2 separate regions of the Homo sapiens genome follow, and region 1 is linked to region 2. A link means that fine-mapping ties the variant in region 2 to the expression of a gene that starts in the linked region. Tissue or cell type: whole blood. Region 2 holds a variant in brackets; the other region holds the start of a gene. All regions are shown on one strand. Distances are between the middles of the regions.

Evidence for each region. PIP is the estimated chance that this variant, and not a neighbour inherited with it, causes the effect.
Region 1: HAUS6 starts here. The variant in region 2 is fine-mapped to the expression of HAUS6 in whole blood (TOPMed, PIP above 0.99). The same link has a PIP of 0.9 or more in T cells, lymphoblastoid cells and thyroid.

The regions. Positions count from the first base shown.
Region 1 is chr9:19,101,933-19,104,578 of GRCh38, forward strand. It overlaps HAUS6 (HAUS augmin like complex subunit 6), which reads right to left and starts at 972. Exons shown (of 17, transcript NM_017645.5): 1 at 592-972. The coding sequence starts at 719. RefSeq lists an enhancer at 651-1,214.
Region 2 is chr9:19,068,433-19,070,932 of GRCh38, forward strand. HAUS6 (HAUS augmin like complex subunit 6) reads right to left here. Exons shown (of 17, transcript NM_017645.5): 12 at 1,787-1,868. Among named protein-coding and RNA genes, the nearest start is that of RRAGA, 20 kb to the left of the region's middle. The variant G/A (reference allele first, on the strand shown) is at 1,055.

The sequences.
Region 1 (2,646 bases), 34 kb after region 2:
CTCTTGGCCTACAGTGGGAATGATTAAATAGAGATACTGGCTAAAGTTGATAAAACAGAAGTGGAAAAAGTAGGGAAGGGGCTTTTACTTTCCATACTTTTCTTAAAAGGGTATTTGTTTTTAATACCCTTCTCCGTTGTTTTATGCTAACTCCAACATGCCTTACTAATTAAAAAATTAAAAATTATAAAATTAAACAACCACCTTCAAAGGCTCCCTTGAGTCCAAAAGGTGTTTTGTACATATGGTTCCCATGCTCTTCCACTACCACCCGCCATCCCTCCCACTACTTCACAGACCACCCCTCCACCACATAGGCAGAGTTAAGCTGCTCCTCCAGTCTTGCACTCTCCCCATCTGCAGACTTTTGCACTCCCCTACAGAGCGCTTCCGGCACTCTTGCATTATTTACTGTCTGTCTCTGCCCCTAGGCTGGCAGCAACTGGGAGTAGGAACTTTGGAGCCAATGCCTGGCACAGAGTAACTGCTCAACCAATTCTGATTAATCAACCTCCGGGGTCTACAAAAGGGGGAGTCCCCCGGCGTCCCCCGGTTCAGGCTCCCTCGCCCCGCCGGCCCCGGCCTCCTTACACTCCGAGGTGCGTGTGCGACACGATCTTTCCGCAGGCAATGGTTGCCGGGCCTGGCTCGAAGCCGAGCGCCTGCAGATACATCCAGAGATGCTCCTTCTCGAAAGCGGTGACCGAGGCCGAGCTCATCCTCGCGGTAGGCACGGTGGCTGCAAAGAAAGAAAGCGCAAGCCCAGGGGACTCGGAGGGCCCTCAAGATCCCTCCCTACGGTCAGCCTGAGGTCGCGGTGGTCCTTCCATTGCCAACGCCTGCTCCTTTCACGCCCAGAGCGATTTCGCCTCAAAGGGCCTCACAACCTCCGGGAAATTGAGTTTCTAACGGTATAGTGCGGCCACCACTGCCTCAGCGAAGCCACCACAAACCGAGACTCCCGCCCTTAAGGAAGAGCAGTGTGCGCCGGCGCCGCCAGGCGTCCGAGGGAGGAGGGACTTCCGGCAAAGACTATATCTCCCGCCATGCAATGCGTCCTTCTCTCCTCCCTTCCGGCCATGCCCAGCCAAGAAACTGCAAGACCCACCGGGCATTGCGCGGCCAGCGACTTGCTCTGCGCTTGCTTAACCGCTGTCGTGCCCAGATCCTCGGGCCTTCGGGTTTCTGATTCTTGGTTAGTGGGGTCCATTTGCTTGTGTATCCTAGTTGTTACGTCACAAAAAAGCCATAAATGGAGCACTATGCCTCGGTGTAGAGTTAAAGCATTGGTTCCATCCTCCGCTATGCTCACTGTGACTCTAATCAAGTCACGTAATCTCTGAGCCTCATTTCTGTCGTTAGCGAAATCTATGTCCTCAAATGCCGGATGTTCCTTTTCCTGCTTTAAATGAAATCTGGCTCTATACTCCCCTGCAGTCCTGCAGTCTTTTTTTTTTTTTTTTTTTTTTTTGAGACGGGGTTTCGCTCTTGTTGCTCAAGTTGGGGTGCAGTGACGCGATTTCGGCTCACTGCAACCTCCGCCTCCCGGGTTCAAGCGATTCTCCTGCCTCAGCCTCCCGAGTAGCTGGGATTAACAGGTGTCCGCCACCACGCCCGGCTAATTTTTTTGTATTTTTAATGGAGACGGGGTTTCACCATGTTGGCTGGCTGGTCTCGAACTCCTGACCTCAGGTTATCTGCCGGTCTTGGCCTCCCAAAGTGCTGGGATTACAGGCGTGAGCCACTGCGCCTGGCCGCCTGCAGTCCTCTTAATTTTTTTTTTTTTTTTTTTTTTTTTTTTGAGACGGAGTCTAGCTCTGTCTCCCAGGCTGGAGTGCAGTGGCGCAATCTCGGCTCACTGCAAGCTCCGCCTCCCAGGTTCACGCCATTCTCCTGCCTCAGCCTCCCGAGTAGCTGGGACTACAGGCTCCCACCACCACGCCGGGCTAATTTTTTGTATTTTTAGTAGAGACGGGGTTTCACCCTGTTAGCCAGGATGGTCTCGATCTCCTGACCTCGTGATCCGCCCTCCTCGGCCTCCCGAAGTGCTGGGATTATAGGCGTGAGCCACCGCACCCGGCCCGTCGTCTTAATTGACAGCTGTTGCCTACCACAAACCCCACTGACAACAGGGCCTGGAAGTGGATTGGGTAACCTGCTTTTAAGTCTCATTGCTACCTCTGGCAATGATTGTCTCCTGCCTCACTAAAATCACCTTAATAAAAGAGAGAGAGGCGGGGCACAGTGGCTCACGCCTATAATCCCAGCACTTTGGGAGGCCAAGGTGGGCGGATCACCTGAGGTGGGGAGTTCGAGACCAGCCTGACCAACATGTAGAAACCCCGTCTCTACTAAAAATACAAAATTAGCCGGGCGTGGTAGCGCATGCCTGTAATCCCAGCTCAGCTACTCGGGAGGCTGAGGCAGAAGAATCGCTTGAACCCGGGAGGCAGACGTTGCAGTGAGCCAAGATCCTTCCACTGCATTCCAGCCTGGGCGACAAAGTGAGACTCTGTCTCAAAAAAAAAAAAAAAAAAGAGGAGAGAGAGAGAGAGAAAGAAAGAAAAGCCACTAAGTTGCCCAGGCTGGGCTCGAACTCCTGGGCTCAAGCGACCTGCCCACCTTGACCTCCCAAGGAATGAGCCA
Region 2 (2,500 bases):
ATCCAGATAGACTAAAATATGGTTCTTCCACAACTAGTCCTGACTGCCTGTGAACTAGATTACTGCAGAACCAATTACCAATAACTCAATTTTACAAAAAAAGTTTTAACTCTGGTTAGTGTTACAGCTTATTAACTTACTAAGATGGCATAGAATGATGAGTGCTTCATTTAAAATTTAGGATTTTCCTTTATAATTTTCCTAAGTATTTTATTTTCATCTGTCCCTCATCTACTTGGGGAAGTTGTAATGAAAGACACCTATTTAGGTTAAAAAACAATTAAAAAAAAAAAAACTAATAAAGGAAAGTTTCGTGTTTGATTGCTACTTAATAATGTTTAATTTCAATGAAGAACTAATATGTTCCCCAATCGGATTACATACATTTAGTTCACAGATTTTTTGCTCATATAATCTGTAATTAGTCCAAAATGGGATAATAGAGAAAAAAAAAGGCAATAAAGAAAATAGGAATATTACTGGAGGAAGTTAGAACAAAATCCAGTTTTTTCATATGTTAAATCTGGTGGTTATAGTAAATCAGAAGTTGTCCAATTTTTTTTTAAGCATGGAACTCTTCTTATCGAATAGTTTACCAAACACCACAATATATAACATATATAAAAGAGCAAGTTGCCCAAGGCTAAAGTGGGAAAAGGCTGGACCAGCCACGGGTTATGTTAGATACATCCACAGCACCAAATGGCACTATAGGATGTAGTCTGAAAACTATCTGGACAAGATGATCTCAAAGGCCCCCAAACACTTGAACTTAGTTTCAAAAAAGTTCACATACATAAAAAGGCAAAAACTCTCAAATTTGCATTAGATAATTTCCAAATAATCCCCATGAAACTCAATATTTAGATAAAGAATAGAAGAGGAAAAAATGCCCATGTATCATAAATGTTGGATCTTTTCTGAAAATGTGGGTCTATGGTAGAAAAATATTGTCCAGTTAAAAGGGCAAAATTGGCCGGGTGCGGTGGCTCACATCTGTAATCACAGCACTTTGGGAGGCCAAGGCGGGTAGATCACCTGAGATCAGGAGTTC[G/A]AGACCAGCCTGGCCAACATGGTGAAACCTCATCTCTACTAAAAATACAAAAATTACCCAAGTGTGGTGGCAGGCGCTTGTAATGCCAGCTACTTAGGAGGTAGCCTGAACCCAGGAGGGGAACTATTTGAACCCAGGAGGCGGGGATGTTGCAGTGAGCCAAAATCGTGCCATTGCACTCCAGCCTAGGAAACAAGAGCAAGACTCCATTTCAAAAAAAAACAAAAGGCAAAATTATGCACTATCCCAGAGTAAATAAGATTGGAAACTGGTTTAAGATGGGAATAAAATTAATATATAAAAAAATCAATATAAAAATCAAATTTGGGTCAGGCACAGGAGGTTATGACCATAATCCCAGCACTTTGGGAGGCCCCGGCAGGAGGATCACTTGAGGCCAAGAGTTAAAGACTAGCCTCTGCAACCCAGAAAGACCACACCTTTTGTTTTTCCTTTTAGTACAGACAGGGTCTTGCTATGCCTGTACTGGTCTAGAACTCCTGGGCTCAAGCGATCTTCCCACCTCAGCCTCCCAAAGTGCTAGGATTACAGGAGTGAGCCACTACATCCAGTGATTGGTGCGTTTTTACAATCCTCTTGTAATACAGAAAAGTTCTCCAACTCCCCAACAGACCCAGAAGTCCAGCTGGCTTCACCTCTCAGTTCCATCTCTATTTTTTATAAAATAAGAGTTTTTTAATGTTTAACAAAAGAAAATCAAATTTGTTTTACCTGTTGGCTAGATCATGTAGCGCTCCCAAGGTATCACTGTCTCCTCTGCAACCATTTTCTTGGTTATGTTGCTTATGTGCATCTAAAGAAATTTAAAAATTGGTTACTCTTTAATTATGTTTGTACATTCTAACATTCAAGGATTCCTTGAAATTCGAGAACAACTTGTAAACAGAAGAAAACAGAAAAACCAAAATATGAACACTAATAGGAAAACATAATTATTCAATTGATAAGTATAAAGTGATGAGCAGAAAAGTAATAGAGAACATCTAGCTTTTATAAAAGAAATGATGGCTAATACTAAAACAAGTTACTCAAAGACTAAGAATCCATAATTCCCCAGTGTTATATGCTTCATGTTTACATACACAGATCATGAGATTATCACAAAAGCCAGCAAGGCCAAAAAGTTACAGTCTTAGCATATTTCAGTGCACATTTATGGTATCAGTCAACCTATATATTTATTCTTCAACCTATGACTGAATAACTACATGCTACTACCATACCAACAATGGAAGAAAGAAATGAAAGATGGAAATGTTGCCTCCGAAGAGTCAGTCTAGGAAAGGATAGTGATGAGTCAAGTGTTATGTTATACTTCTACAGTATTATGACAGAAGTATATACAGAATTTAAGGAGGCAGAGGACAGACATCCAGCCCAGACTGCAGAGTGGGAAGAAGGCATGAAGGTACTGAGAGAACGAGG